Linked DNA regions of Homo sapiens: region 2 is linked to region 1. Evidence: fine-mapped expression QTL. Tissue or cell type: whole blood. Region 1 holds a variant in brackets; the other region holds the start of a gene. All regions are shown on one strand. Distances are between the middles of the regions.

Region 1 (8,257 bases):
CCTCTACCAAGAAATACAAAAATGAGTCGGGCATGGTGGCGCGTGCCTGTAATTCCAGCTACTTGGGAGGCTGAGGCAGGAGAACCGCTTGAACCCAGGAGGCAGAGGTTGCAGTGAGCCAAGACTGTACCACTACATTCCAGCCTGGGTGACAGAGTGAGACACTGTCTCAAAAAACCCCCCAAAAAACAAACAAAAATAACAAAAAACAAAAGTGACTTTGGCACCTATCTGCCTCTCAGGTCTTACTCTGTGAAAGAAGGACTGTGCTCAGTAAGTATGTCAGAGAGAAAAATTGCCCGGCACATTCCATGAGGGGCTGGGTCCCCAAGATGTCCAGGCCAGATGTGTCTGCCTTCTGCTGAGCTCGTCACATTTCATTCCCATCCCCTTTCTTTTTTTTTTTTTGAGACAGAGTCTAGCTCTGTCACCCAGGCTGGAGTGCAGTGGCGCAATCTTGGCTCACTGCAAGCTCCGCCTCCCGGATTCATGCCATTCTCCTGCCTCAGCCTCCGGAATAGCTGGGACCACAGGCGCCCGCCACCACGCCTGGCTAATTTTTTGTATTTTTAGTAGACGGGGTTTCACCGTGTTAGCCAGGATGGTCTCGATCTCCTGACCTCGTGATCTGCCCACCTTGGCCTCCCACCCAAAGTGCTGGGATTACAGACGTGAGCCACTGCACCCAGCCCCCATCCCCTTTCAACAGGCCCCTGCTCCCTACCCCAAAAAGCAGAGCAAGCTAATGAAATCCCTGACTTGGTCCAAGTACTGACTCCGCTTGGTAAAGGGATACATAAAAATGGGTGCACCTGCCAGGCGTGGTGGCTCATGCCTGTAATCCCAGCACTTTGGGAGGCCGAGGCAGGCGGATTGCCCGAGATCAGGAGTTCAAGACCAGCCTGAATGACATGGTGAAACCTCATCTCTACTAAAAGTACAAAAATTAGCCAGGCATGGTGGTGGGCGCCTGTAATCCCAGCTACTTGGGAGGCTAAGGCAGAAGAATCACTTGAACCCGGGAGGCAGAGGTTGCAGTGAGCTGAGACTGGTCCATTGCACTCCAGCCTGGGCAACAAGAGCGAAACTCCATCTCAAAAAAAAAAAAAAAAAAAAAGGCCTGGGCATGGTGGCTCACGCCTGTAATCCCAGCACTTTGGGAGGCTGAGGCAGGCGGATCACGAGGTCGAGACCATCCTGGCTAACATGGTGAAACCTCGTCTCTACTAAAAATACAAAAAATTAGCCGGGCATGGTGGCAGGCGCCTGTAGTCCCAGCTACTCAGGAGGCTGACACAGAAGAATGGCGTGAACCCAGGAGGCAGAGCTTGCAGTGTGCCAAGATTGCGCCACTGCACTCCAACCTGAGTGACAGAGCGAGACTCCGTCTCCAAAAAAAAAAAAAAAACGCACTTGGTCTAGGAGGAAAGGCCAGGTCAGAGTTAACATAGGGCTCTCATTTTTGAGAAATTAAATACAAAGGAACCATTTGATTGCCCTGCCAACCCGATGCCAGGCTTGTTTCCCTCCAGGAGTGCAGGCCTTCAGGCTGTCCTGGAGTTGCCTGCGTGGACAGGTCCTAAGGCAGGGGGACTGGTCTGGGGACTTTACCAGCTCTCTTCTTCCTGGTCTCCAGCCTTCTTCTTGGCCTGAGGTTTCACCAAGGACTCTATAGCTCGCTCCAGCAGGTTCTTGCAGAAGGCCTGGTGGACCTGCGCAATGGGGTCAGCTGGAAAAGAGACAGGCAAGGGGGGTTAAATGGAGCTCATTTATGAGCCCACTTTGTCTTTACGGAGAGAAACTCCAAACACAGCCATGCCTTGTGAATGGGGATCAGATGCCCCTTCTCCACCAAAGCCCAGAACTACTGTGCTAAACAGTTGGAGGATGGGGGAGAGTGTTCACTCCCAGCCTGAAGAGCTCAAGACTAGTTCTGGATGAGCTCCGGTGGGGAGGGGGTGTGGGGGAGGGTGCTGTGTCTCCTGGCACAGTGCTCAGTACTCTAAGGTTGGGAGCTGTCAGGTGGAGTTGGATCAGAAAACAGAAAATGGAATGTCTCAGAGGATTTCTCTTCTCCATGTGGCTAAGGAGAACCACCAGGCAAGGAAAAAAAGGTGGTAGCTGCTGCCACGCTCATGACAACGAAGAACATGCTCCGGTTTTTCCAGAGCCTTGTCATGGAACGTGCCATCAGCAGTGACCTGTCTGAACTGGCTAGACACGGGGCCTTGCAATGCTTGGATAGCTGACTGTCACCAGCAAGTTTCTTTACTGGCAGGCCTCAAATCACCAGCCCCTTCTCTCTCCTCACATGTGGCAGATATGTGGGCCTCGATCTAATGACCAGGAGGAGGGACACTTATGAACACATTCCAAGTAACAAGGCCTGGAGCCAGAGACTGCCAGAGATGACAAAGCCACTGAGAAGTCCATGTTTAGCCAGCAGGGGTGGGGTAGAAAGATTTAGGATTGCTTTTGCTTTCATCCTTTATATTTTGGTGTTGCACACAATTCTCACGTTGAGCAATACAGTTATTATTTAAAAAAGAAAAGGACAGTGAACTCCCCCAATGTGTGACACACACCCCTATACCTGTAGAACCTTACTCTCCCCACAGACTCCAATTCTGAGAGGGGAGGAAAAGTACAGCAGAAAGCAGACAGCCACTGAGCACTCAAGGTCTAAGTCAATCCTGACCAGCCTCTACTGCTCCAAGGCCGGGCGAGTCAACTCCAATCACTATCAAATGCCAGGGACAGAAAGCCAGCACCTCCTTCCAATGCCTGAAGCCTCGTCCCTGTCACCACTCTGAGCAGTTGATGACTGCCTGCCACCTATTGTTCCCAAACTCTCCATTTATGTCTGTCTGCTCTCCCAATGGGAGAGACCTGGAGGCCAGGGAAAGCAAGCCTCACACATCCTTTGTGTCTCCAAAGTGCCCAAAACAAGGGCTAAGAGTACCCTTGGAGCTTAATCACAATTTATTGCTGTGTGATGTAAGGACCATGGGCTCTGAATGTTAGAGAGAGCAGAGCTGCACACCCAGCTTAGCCACTGACAATTTCTGATCAGGCTTGTGACCTTAAGCAAGTTACTCAACCTCCCTGAGCTTTGGTTCAAACAAACAAACAAACAAACAAACAAACGGACTCAACAAGATTAAGAGACAACCCGTGTCTCCGCGTGTCTGGTGCAGTGACTCTGTAGTACCGGCGGTTTGCATGGCTTTCTCCAATTCTGAATGGCTCCAAGGTATTCTCACCTGGGTTCCTCTGGGCACAGTATAGACTCTCCTTGGCAGCTGACTTCACAGACCAGCTCCGCTCCATGAAAAACTTCTGGCCCAGGGGGTGGCAGAGCCAGCGCAGGGAGTCAGGAACAGCACTGTGCTCGGGGCCACACAGGCTCTGGGCTCGGCTGAGGAAGTAGCTCTGTGGAAGGACAAGGACCAGGGG[T/C]AACACCAAGGTGGCAGAATGCTGGCTGCAGCCACTGTGGGGTGCAGAAAGCACCATGGTGGAGGTGGGCTTTGGGGGAGACTGGGAAAGATCAGCACAGGGATAGGACTCCCACAGGTACCTGAAAGTAAAGCCCACCATGGAAACTAGGGCAAGCCCACCAGTAGAGTGTGCTGGACTTGCTGACTAGGTCCACATCCCAGCAGGAGGGCAGGGAGCAGCCACAAGGCACGCGTGGGGCCCCTGCTGCATCCTGTCCTGCTGGGGCTGCCTGATCCTACTGGCATTCAACCTGCAGGGTAAACTAGGAAGGCGGTTTCCCAAGGAGGGGTCTCAGGGGCCCCCTGGCTGCTGTACTTTCCCCTCGGCCCCGAGAGTGCCAAGCCAGGCAGCCCCTTCTATCCTGGGACTTTTTATCATGTCATTTTTTTTTTTTTTTTTTTTTGAGACGGAGTTTCGCTCTGTCGCCCAGGCTGGAGTGCAGTGGCGCGATCTCGACTCACTGCAAGCTCTGCCTCCCGGGTTCACGCCATTCTCCTGCCTCAGCCTCCCGTGTAGCTGGGACTACAGGCGCGCGCCACCATGCCCGGCTAATTTTTGTATTTTTAGTAGAGACGGGGTTTCACCGTGTTAGCCAGGATGGTCTCGATCTCTTGACCTCGTGATCCGCCCGTCTCGGCCTCCCAAAGTGCTGGGATTACAGGCGTGAGCCACCGTGCCTGGCCCATCATGTCATTTTAATTACATATCTTTTAGACTATTTTAGGCAAAATTATTCTGCTTTGACTAATTTTTCTTTTACTTTTACTTTGCGTGTAAAGTTTAGAACAGTGCTCGGCACATGGCCAGCCGTCAGGGTCACATCAGATGGCACTGGAGTGAAGGGGCAGCTGGGAGGACAGCCCAGGCCCTGTACAGGCAAGTATCTGTGTGCAGGTGGTTGAGAGACTCCCCCCACAAAGCTGGCCCTGCAAGGGCGGCCCCCTACAGAAACCCCATGGCACCCCTGCATGAGCCCCTGATGTGAACACCAGCCTGCGAGAAAGAACAGAGGGGGAACCTGGAAAGCCTCTTTGTGGGACAATTCAAAGAGCCAGGGCCCCGGTCACTGGGCCCCTCCTCCACTTGCCGGGATAACATCATTCCAGGACCCCACTGACAAGAACTGCAGGGACAATACCATCTACCACGTTTTCAGTTCTGTCACTTTTTGAGTGAGGGTATTTTCACACTAACACCCATGACTTCCAACCCATAACCACTCCCCGAAACAGGCCAGGGTGAGTGAGGAACTGAGGACAGAAGACAGGAGGGAGGGAGAAGCATAAGATAGAAAGCCCAGGGAGCCCAGGGGCGGGGCTGCCAGGCCGAGGCCCGCAGACATCGCTTCCACACCCCAGCCCTCGCCCCCACAGGAGCAGCGCTGTTTCATGGTCTGGTTCAGTCTGATGGTTCTGACCTTTACTGGGCTCTAAGTAGCCATCAGCGAATGTAACGGCTTCAGAAGACTTGAATGCCAGGGTCAGAAATAGCACTGTCAGAGTGCCACTCGAGGACACAGACAGAGAAGACTATCTCTCTCCAGGGGGAACCTGGAGACACTGCCTGAGTCTGAGAGAAAACAACCTGTTCTATAGACACATACTCATAATCTCAAAGCAGCTTATGAGATGAGGTGGGGTGTTTCACTTACATTTCTAATCACTGGGACCAGGGGCACCAATAGTCCGTCCTTCCTCTTTGGTAACCAGTGTTGATACTGGATACTGGAGAACAAATGTAGAGGACCCTCGCGACCCTCTGCCAACCTTCCACAAAGCACTCACTGAATCTGAGCTGATAACTGCAATGGTGGGAGAATAGCAGTTGAGGAGCTGAGCAGGGAGGGAGATTGGGGGGTGGTGGCGTGATTCCTGGGCTTCGGAGGTCCCAGAACATTTGAACGGTTGACTCCAACTCTCTTTCCAAGAACAGCCAATTCCACATGTCCAATCAGCAAGGGAGCCTGGTGGCTGCTCCAGGAGAAACTGAGGACCAACTGGTCCCTCACGAGGGCCCAAATGTTACAAGTAGAAGCAAAGCCTAGTCCAGGTCATACGGCAAGAGGAACCAGAAAGGCAAATGTGGAAATCACTAAGTAAAAATGTATTTTAAGCTTAATTCTTTTCTTTTCTTTTTTTTTTTAAAGACAGAGTCTTGCTCTGTCACCCAGGCTGGAGTGCAGTGGTGTGATCTTGGCTCACTGCAACCTCCGCCTCCTGGGTTCTAGCAATTCTCCTGCCTCAGCCTCCCAAGTAGCTGGGATTATAGGCACCCGCCACCGCACCCAGCTAATTTTTATATTTTTAGTAGAGACAGGGTTTCACCATCTTGGCCACGCTGGTGGCTTGGCTTGTAATCCCAAGCCAAAAAAAAAAAAATTTTTTTTTAAGTTTTCCTAAATTTTATAGACACCAGAATCTTCCCCAACTGGGGCCTAGGAGCCTCCCCCTGTAACTCATCTGCTAATTGCCTGATGTGAAAGAGGCTGTGGCAAGAACCCCACAACTGTTTAGATCCTGAGAGCCACTCAGTATCCCTGGGCCAGTCCCAACCCCAGGTTGTGTCCCCTAACATCGGTCTAACCCCATGGCTCTCAAATCGTGTGCCAAGGCAGTCTGAGGTGCCACAGCAAGTGATCAAGGGAGCCACTGGCTATTTTAAACTTTCGAGGAAAACAGTGATGCTCAACATCAGCTGGGCACTGTAAGTGACTAGATGGGGAGAGCATGCAGCCTCAGCATTGAGACCACACTAGCTTCCTTTGGAGATGTGATATCTGTCATAGTACTGTGTGAAAATCAATGTGGAAAAGAGAGAGAGTGATGGTTGCTAGTCTGATTCCAAAGCTTGAGGTGTGCAGTGCTTGACAGGTTCATGTATTGGTAAGAAACAGTGACACCATGCTTGTGAAGAGCCATTCCACTCCAGCCTGGGCAACAGAGTGAGGCTGTATCTCAAAAAATAAATAAATAAATAAAAGAATATTTTGGATTCTTAATAACCATGATTTCTAAGAAATTATTAAGAATCCAAAATATTCTCTCTCTTTCTTTCTTTTGAGACAGAGTCTTGCTCTGTCACCCAGAGTGCAGTGGCACAATCTCGGCTCACGGCAACCTCTGACTCCTGGGTTCAAGTGATTCTGTCTCAGCCTTCCGAGTAGCTGGGATTACAGGTGCGTGCTACGATCCCTGGCTAATTTTTGTATTTTTAGTAGACACGGAGTTTCATCATGTTGGCCAGGCTGGTCTCAAACTCCTGACCTTAGGTGATCCACCCGCCTCAGCCTCCTTAAGTGCTGGGATTACAGGTATGAGCCACCGTGCCCAACCTCTTTTTTTTTTTTTTTAATAGAGACATGGTCTCACTATGTTGTCCAGGCTGGAGTGGAGTGGCTCTATTCACAGGTGTGACCATAGCTAACTGCAGCCTCAAACTCGTGGTTTCAGGAGATTCTCCTACCTCAGTCTCCTGAGGAGCTGGGACCACAGGTGTGTGCTACCACTCCTAGCAAAAAATATTATTTCTTCTTTCAACTTGACATATGATTTTTTCAAATGACCACTAAGCTGTTAAGACAATTTAAATACCTATTAGGATGTTCAAACTTAACTACTTAACAGAGGCCAGGCGCGGTGGTGCATGCCTATAATCCCAGCACTTTGAGAGGCTGAGGTGGGCAGATCGCTTAAGCCCAGGAGTTCGAGACCAGCCTGAGCAACATAGCAAAACCCTGACTTTACAAAAAATACAAAAATAAGCTCGGTGTGGTGGTGTATACCTGCAGTCCCAGCTACTCGGGAGGGTGAGGTGGGATGATCACTTGAGCCCAGAGAGGTTGAGGCTAGAGTGTGCCGTGATTGCACCACTGCACTCCAGCCTGGGCAACAGAGCAAGACACTGTTTCAAAAAACGAAAACCAGAACCGTTAGGTATTTCTTTTGGCTAAGGGATGCCATGAAAAATTTACTGAGACATAGTGAGTAGAGAATGTTTGGGAATCTTGAGTCATGAGTTGAGCAAGTTTGGGAACCTCTAGTCTAAACCATTTTCACAGAGGCCAGCCCTCCACTTGCCCCCAACAACTGGCTCATTTGTAGCTAAATATATCTCACCAAATTCAAAGCTTCTTCCTTTATAAGAAAGTACTGTCTGAGTCTCTTTATCCTCTCTCAAGAGAAGTAAACAGAGAAGAGCAGTTACTTTAAAGATGACAGTTCTCCTTTTTCCATCTTACTGAATATGCAAATTTGGTAATACTATTAAGTTTCAAATATTTATATCCTTTGACACAGCATCACCATCTCTACAGATTTGGTCTGAGGAAACTCTTATGGAGGTGCATGAAGACAATGGACAAAAATGTTCCCTAAAGCACTGTTTATAACGGCAAATACTGGAAACAACCCAAATGTCCATCAGCAGCATCAAGTACCTCTGTAGAATGAAGAGGCTACAAAGAAACACCCAAGATTCATCGTTAGTCACTAAATCTGGAAGACCAACACTTCCAGACATCAAGACGTAAGAGAAAACTCAGCCGTTAGGGTTGGGTGGTGATGGTGCAGTGGAACAGACTAGATCTGGAGGCAGACCCACGGTACACGGATCCTTGATTTATGAAAAAAAGGTGCCACTTGGTGCAGCAGGGGAAGGATAGTTTTTAAAATAACAGGTTCTGCGTCAGGTAGATATCCTTATGGAGAAAAACAGATCTTGCACTCCTACCTCCAACTCTTATAAAAATTAATTCCAGGTG
Region 2 (8,000 bases), 60 kb after region 1:
GTGGTCTTCCTGCTAAGCCAGCCTTTACCAAGCTACCCTCACTGCTGACTTTTACTTGTTGTGCTGTGCAATTTTAAGCTGTTCCATACTGGCACTAGAGTTTCTCATCTCAAGCTCCATGAAGCCATAAAATTCTATGCTATCTTTCACGATTCCTTACAGCTCAGAAACCACAGCCAGCACTTGAATACTTGTTGATCAACTGAAGACATGGAACCACTTTTCCCAAACCTGGCCCCTAGGTCTCCTGTGACACAACAGCCACACCTCTTCCTTGTGCGGTATATAACTATTTTGAGAAAAAGCCTTATGCACTGTTATAAACCAGGTCTTCTGGAAGGACAGAGAAATGGAATCTTCTTCCACTGGGATCAAACCTAATGGACCTATGAAGCCACTGAACCACTGTGGTAGTTTCCAGAGGGTGGTAGTTTCCATTTTATTCAGAAATCTGTGGGGATAAAGACAGTATTAACCACTAGGTAATTTAAACTCATTACAAATTAAGACAGGGTCGGGTACAGTGGCTCATGCCAGTAATCCCAGCACTTTGGGAGGCCAAGACAGGAGGACTGCATGTGCCTGGAAGTTGAAGACTAGCCTGGGCAACACAGTGAGACTGGCTCTACCATATATATATAAATTAGCTAGGTGTGGTGGCACATGCCTTAGTCCTAACTACTCGGGAAGCTGAGCTGGGAGGATTGCTTAAGCCCAAGAGTTCAAGGCTGCAGTGAGCTATGATTGTGCCACTGCACTCCAGCCTGGGCAACAGCCAGACACTGTCTCTAAAAAAAATTAGGTGGCTCGGCCAGGCACGGTGGCTCGGCCAGGTACAGTGGCTCATGCCTGTAATCTCAGCACTTTAGGAGGCCAAGGTGGGCGGATCACCTGAGGTTGGGAGTTGGAGACCAGCCCGACCAACATGGAGAAACCCTGTCTCTACTAAAAATACAAAATTAGCCGGGCGTGGTGGCGCATGCCTGTAATCCCAGCTACTCGGGAGGCTGAGACAGGAGAATCGCCTGAACTCGGGAGGTGGAGGTTGCGGTGAGCCGAGATCGCGCCATTGCACTCCAGCCTGGGCAACAATAGCGAAACTCCATCTCAAAAAAAAAAAAAAAAAATTTAGGTGGCTCACACCTGTAATCCTAGCACTTTGGGAGGCCAAGGCAGGAGGATCATTTGAGCCTAAGAGTTTGTGCTATGATTGTGCCACTGCATTCCAGCCTGGGTGACAGAATGAGACCCTGTCTCAAAAAATAACTAAATAAATAAAAATTTAAATTTAAAAATCAGATAAACAAAATAAGACAAATAGGAATTGATCATGGAATAGGAATGCAAAATGCACATGAATTTCTTTCTGTGCCCTTGCAGGTAGGCAGCTATAGACATACAGTACTTTCTACTGGCTGTGTAATCTTCAGTAAATTAATGAACCACCCTGGGCCTCACTTTCAGGATCAGTGAGAGGGAGATGACAAGTATAACAGTTCTCTCTACCTGACAGGGTTGTTAGGAAGATTGAGAACATTAACGTGTATAACTGTTTAACACCGTCTGGCACAGAAGTTCTCAAAACATGTTAGCTGCCCTTGCTATGTTCCCAACCCCCACCTACCCCATCCCCCATTTGTTAACCCATTTCTGTATTTAGAAGCACTTAGCAAAGAGTCTGTGGTTAGAACTGGGGCTTCAATTAAGGGTCTTATCACACTGCCCACATGACCAAAATGGAAATCAAGGACAAACCAAGGGGAGAAATATTACAAAAGCAAAATGGGAAAATGGCAAACAGATCCTTTTCAATTAGCTGCTGCATTTATCTCTTCCCCCAAAAGAGAATCTTCTGCTGCTTCTGCTTCTTCATCTGCACAACGGGGATGTAGCCATCATACATGCCTGCAAGGCTGTAGTGAGATCCTGGACATGAAAGCATTCTGAAAACTGAAAAGTACAATGCACCTGTGTTTCTGCCTAAGCTCTCTAAGGTGAGTGGCCTTAGATAAGTCAACATCTCCTGGCCTCGGCTTCTTTAATTACCGTATTAAAATAGAGGTAATAAGAGTATCTCACAGGATTGTTGTGAGGAAGAAGTGAAATAATACAAAGCATTTTGGGGCCTAAACATAAGAGTGCAACTATCCAGTTAATAAGATTACTAGCCTAGTCAACTGGACTCTTTCTTGAAAGGAGGGGTATAAAAAAACCAATACTGGCCAAGGAACTGCAAGAACTAGGCTCTAACCAGCTGGGTGACCTTGAGCAAGCCGCTGACCCTCTCCAAATCGTTGTTCCCGTGGTCGCAAAATTAGTATTTTAAGAGTGGATCCCTGGGCTCCTACCAGCTCTTCCACTCCGCTGTTAAGGCGCTGGAACAAAGGCCACCCGCTCCCCAGCCCGTACCCGAGGGGCCACAACTCAAAATTTCTTCTGCTCAATTCCCCTTGCAGCGTGACAGCAGGAGCGCCCGGGTCTCCATCCCGGAGAGATGTGTCCACACTCCGCCGCCACTGCTCTCTTCATCAGCAACTTGCTTCTGCAGTCGCTGCCCAAAGTTTCGCGGAGCACCCGGCGACCTGGCCGTCGGTCAATCCTGAGAAGCCCAGGGATTCGGGGCGCGGAGACTGGGGGCTGGGCCCCGGGAATCCCAAAGACGTCCCCGCGGCCAGGAAGGGAGTGACAGGTGCGACGCGCGGTCGCGGGCGGCGGGAGAGCGGACCACGGAAACCGCGTGTGGGCGCGCGAGGGAGGCGGCGGCCACGCGCTCTCCTTAGGCCGCTCCCTGAGACGCCCCCGCGACGTCCCTAGCCCCGCGCTCTGGAACCCGCGACCCTCGCGCCGCTTTCGGCCCCGCGGCGCCCCAGATCCCACGGCCTCCCGGAGCGGCGCAGCTGGGTCGGGCTCACGCTCGCAGCGCCGGAAGGGTTGAGGACCGCCGGGGGCACCGTGCGCACGGGGTTCTTCCCGCGCGAACCGGGGCTGTCGGGGGGTGGGCGCACGCGCACCCGGGCGCGCCGCCGTAACCCCTTCCTCCCCGCGCGGCCCCCGCACTCCCACCCACCCACCACTCACCGTCGATGTCTCCCAGGGTCAGCTCGTCGCCCAGCTCCGTGAGGGTCTCCATGGTCTCCAGACCACCCAGCTCGCCGCTGTCGTCCATCGCCCGGCTCAGCGCAGAAGCCCCCCCTGCCGTCCCGCTCAGGGAGACGCGGGGGCGGTGCCGTCGCCACCGCCCATGACACCCGACAACCCCCGCCCGGCACCGCCTCACCGACGGGTGCCACCCGCCGCCATGTTTGCGTTGCGCCCGGGCGCCGCACAGAAAGGGCGGGGCGGGATTCCCCCGCCCCAGCCCGCGCCCCCTGCGGCCCCGCCTCCAGGCCGCGCGCCCCCCTGTTTGTTGTCAATGGGACCAGGCTCATCTCAGCCAATGGGCGAGCGAAGCGGTGCGTGGGGTGATGGCGCGTCATCGATCAGCAGCTCAGATTTGCATAGTGAGGTCCCTCCCCCCGCGGCCTCGGAGCGAATGCCTGGAGTAGCCGTCCGGTCATCATCTTAACCTTCTCCGCCTTGTTTAAAGGAGCCGCTGCCTTCTCCGTTGGATCTGCGCCACACGCAAGTCCGTCCACTGGCCTGGGAGTGAAGGGTTAACAGGCCACCCTCCACCTGCGACCGCTGGCCGCCTCCAGGCCTGGCTGGGAGCACATTACGTCATCTTCCCAGCTGCCTACCCCCGCCCTGCCCGCCTGAGAAAGCCAGCGGAGTCAAACCTGGACCCCAGCGCTCGGGACGGGAGTCCGGGTCATCCAAGTCCCGCTTCTCCCAGCCTCCTTACAAAGGCGGGCACGGAGGCTTGACAAGGTTGCAGATTGTCCCAGGGCGGTCAGGATTTTACGTCTTCTGCTTTGCACCCGCCGTGACCTCGCGCTTACTCCAGTGGTCCTCAATCTCTGGCACCTCGGAACCACTGAGGACCTGAAAACCACGCCAGTGCCCAGGCCCACCGACGGCCTCCTGAGAGGGGGGCCCCGGGCACGAGTTTTTTGAAAAAGTTCCACCGGGATTCTGAAGTGCAGCCCACCCACTCCTTCAAGCACCTCACTGCCCCATCTTGCAGCTGGTCGTGTTGTAAACTTCTAGGAATTTATCCAAAGGAATAAAAATTACAAGTGCTTAAAGAAGTGCTGTAACTAGGAAGAAGTGAGAATAAGGAAATGAATATGTAAATTACATCCACACGATGGAATACCATGGGATCATTAAAAATTACGCACACAAATGTATATTTATTAGCAAGAAAAGGCGTTCACAATATATTGATAAAAGGGAAAAGTTGAAGTTTCCTGCCAGTTTGTGAGAGGCAGCTGTTGCTTAGTGATCAATAATTAAGAACACACAGGCTGTGTGGAGGCAGACACATGGATCCACTAATTCACTGTGACCTTGGGTTAATTGTTCTAAGCCTCAGTTTAGTCATCTCTAAAATGGGGATAAAATAGCATCCCTCATAGCTGTGGTTAAGTGAGATTATTTGCACATTCAATTGACAATATTTATTGAACATCTCTGTGGCAGGGAAACAAATGGTTCCTGCCCTCTGAGAGCTTCCAGTCTAGCAAAAAAAAAAATCAGAAATCCCACACCCGTATTAAACATAAAAATAAATTACAGATGATGGTACAAGTGATCAAGGAAAGGTAATGGATGTGATGAAACTAACAAGGGCCCTGACTTGTGCTGTCAAGAAGCCTCTGAAGAAGTGACATTTAAGATGAAACCTAAAATTATGAGAGAACTGCAGCTGTTACAGCCAAAGGGGAAATGATGACATGGACAAAGGCCTCGAGGCAGGAGGAGCTGCTGGCAGCCAGCTCTCGGCATAAGCTTTGGCATACAGTAAGTGCCTTGCATACTGCTGTATTGCAATTGAAAAAATAAGGATCTGGCCAGGCGCGGTGGCTCACACCGGTAATTCCAGCACTTTAGGAGGCCGAGGTGTGCAGATCATTTGAGGTCAGGAGTTGGAGACCAGCCTGACCAACATGGTGAAACCCCGTCTCTACTAAAAATACAAAAATTAGCCGGGTGTGGTGGCGCATGCCTGTAATCCCAGCTAACCGGTAGGAGAACTGCCGGAACCTGGGAGATAGAGGCTGCAGTGAGCTGAGATCATGTCGCTGCACTCCAGCCTGGGAGACAGAGCAAGACTCTGTCTCAAAAAAAAGAAAGAAAAAATACAAAGAGAGTCCGGGCAAGGTGGCTCACGCCTGTAATCCCAGCACTTTGGGAGGCTGAGGTGGGCGGATTGCCTGAGGTCGGGAGTTCGAGACCAGCTTGGCCAGCTTGGTGAAACCCCGTCTCTACTAAAAATACAAAAATTAGCCAGGCGTGATGGTGCATGCCTGTAATCCCAGCTACTCAGGAAGCTGAGGCAGGAGACTTGCTTGAACCCGGGAGGCAGAAGTTACGGTGAGCAGAGATCGCGCCATTGCACTCCAGCCTGGGCAACAGGAGACTGCGTCTCAAAAAAAAAAAAAAAAAAAAAAGAAAAGAAAAGAAAAAATAAGGATCTGTGTGCTCACCTGAAGGTTAAAAACGATGGAAGACCCAACAGCTGGCTGTCAGACATAGTTACAGGAGTAGTGAGATTTGGGGTGAATTTTACTTTTGGAGTGAATTTTACTTTCTTTTTGGCATTTCAGTATTGCTTAAATTACGTTTTATAATGAACGTGTATAACTAATGAGAAATAGATAGTGTCTTATTTTTTGGGAAAGCAAGACAACATTGTTCTCGTCATTGTTCACACACAGGGAGGCTGGTATAGAATACACCAGTCTCACCCTGAAAGACACAGAAAACTAAACCCTGCTCTGGACACAGCACTGAGCAGGAAGGTGCCACCTTCAACTGTGCTGCCCAGTGGCTCTTGCAAGGCCCCTCACACTGGTGTGTGACTGGTACTCTGGGGGGATTCAGCAACAACTCCCATACAACTCACTCTGGCCCAGGGCACCCCCCACAACCCAGAACCTCAGTGACCCCCTCCAGAGGTGGCACACAGCACCTGCTCCCATAGTTCCCCACTGAGCCTGCCCAGAGGGCGTGATGCCTCGCCAAGTGGACTGAAGGGGTACAACTGAAGGCTCAGTAGAAATGGTGGAAGAAGGGTGGCTGGACCCGAACCTCAGGAAGCACTGATATTTTCCCTCTGGCCCTGGATCCCATGTAACTGAACATCTCTTCCAGGTGGTACCTTGCTCTGGCTAGCAGGAGGACAAGGGCTGGCTCTGAGAGGTAGAACAGCTTTTGACAAGTCACTCCTCAGAACCTGAGCTCTTCATCTGAAAAGAGATGGACAGCCGGGCACGGTTGCTTACGCCTGTAATCCCAGCACTTTAGGAGGCCGAGGCAGGCAGATCACGAAGTCAAGAGATCGAGACCATCCTGGCCAATATGGTGAAACCCATCTCTACTGAAAATACAAAAATTAGCTGGTCATGGTGGCAAGCACCTGTAGTCCTAGCTACTCAGGAGGCTGAGGCAGAAGAATCACTTGAACCCGGGAGGCGGGGGTTGCAGTGAGCCGAGATCGCACCACTGCACTCCAGGCAGGCAACAAAGTGAGACTTGTCTCAAAAAAAAAGAAAAAAAAGAAAGAAAGAAAGAAAAGGGATGGATTAGACTGGGTAACCACTATGTTTCGATATCTACCATGGATTGGGCATGTGCTACGGGTCACAGAAGATAATTTTGTATATGGTTTTTCATTTACTTCCTCTGACACTTTCCCCTTTTTCCCACAGCACCTGTCCTTTTCTTCCTCTTCCCCTAATCTTTCAGGATTCAGTTCAGATATTACTTCCTCTAGGAAGCCTTCCAATTGGATTAACCAAAAGCATGTACTCCACTGTTTGACACAGAGATGGGGTTAGAGAGGGAAATAACCAGTTTGGTTTTGGAAACATAAGCGATGAGAATTATCAGGTAGTAACCGGGCGAGTATTCAGCTTTTAGGTCTTAGAGAGTATGGCTGCCCAAAAAGAAAATAGAAACAGCTCCATAAAAAACTTCATGCAAACGGGGGCAGGTGAGGAAAGAAGAATCCGGAAGAGAGAGTCAGCTCAGACTTGACAGCAGAGAACTACAACAACAAGCCTGAGAGAATCACCTCAAGGAGCTGTCAACAGCATCTCTCTGAGGACAGTGATGGGGAAGGGGAGGAAGATGTGGGACTGGAATAAGGAGAAGGGCTGTGGACCAGAGAGGTTTTCCCTCCCAGTGGACATCTGGCAATGTCTGGACACATTTTTGGTTGTCGTAACTGGGGGACTGCTACAGGCACCTGGCAGGGAGAGGCCGGGATGCTGCTAAAATAGCCTACAACACACAGGACAGCCCTCTTCACACTCACACACCCAACGATTACCTAGCCCCAAACGTTAATAGTGCCGCTGCTGGAAAACGCTGTCTTAAAGGATATCAGGGAGCTCACAGACTAGCAGCTGAGTAGACAGGAGCAATGTCCAAGATCACACTGAAAACACCACTGTTGCCACCACTGGGCACCCTGGCACTGGTCACTGGACTTGGCATTAGAGCCACCCCTTCACTGCTGCCCCTGGTACCTGTGACCACTACCGCCACCAGCACGACTCCCACAGTGGTATATGCAGTTGGTAGCGCTATAGTGACCTAACAATCCCAGCTGCAAGAGGCAGCTGGACAAACATGTGCCCTAGGGCCTTTACAGCTCAGGGGGTGGGCTCTGTCTGCAGTAAGACTCAGCAAGTGGACTTCCTGGAGCAAGTGACTATAACAATCAATAGTGGCAGTAAAGGGAGGGAGAGAGGGAGCGAGTGGAGTAGTTCTATTTGTTTCTTTGAAGGTGCCCATTTGAGGGCAGAAAGGACAGGATTAACCAGGTTGGAGAGAGGATGACGGTATTAGAGGAAAGAGCCCAGGAGGAAGGAGGTGCCAGAAGGGGCAGATGA

Evidence for each region. PIP is the estimated chance that this variant, and not a neighbour inherited with it, causes the effect.
Region 2: SREBF2 starts here. The variant in region 1 is fine-mapped to the expression of SREBF2 in whole blood (TOPMed, PIP above 0.99).

Annotation. Positions count from the first base shown.
Region 1 is chr22:41,888,292-41,896,548 of GRCh38, reverse strand. SREBF2 (sterol regulatory element binding transcription factor 2) reads right to left here. Exons shown (of 19, transcript NM_004599.4): 12 at 3,264-3,432; 13 at 1,612-1,729. Among named protein-coding and RNA genes, the nearest start is that of MIR33A, 8.5 kb to the left of the region's middle. The variant T/C (reference allele first, on the strand shown) is at 3,457.
Region 2 is chr22:41,828,437-41,836,436 of GRCh38, reverse strand. It overlaps SREBF2 (sterol regulatory element binding transcription factor 2), which reads right to left and starts at 3,332. Exons shown (of 19, transcript NM_004599.4): 1 at 3,079-3,332. The coding sequence starts at 3,166. It overlaps CCDC134 (coiled-coil domain containing 134), which reads right to left. Exons shown (of 7, transcript NM_024821.5): 7 at 4,273-8,000. It overlaps SREBF2-AS1 (SREBF2 antisense RNA 1), which reads left to right and starts at 1,772. Exons shown (of 2, transcript NR_157279.2): 1 at 1,772-1,994; 2 at 2,457-8,000. RefSeq lists enhancers at 415-914, 915-1,416, 3,207-3,863, 3,469-3,978, 4,805-5,344 and 1 more and silencers at 2,639-3,028, 3,089-3,428.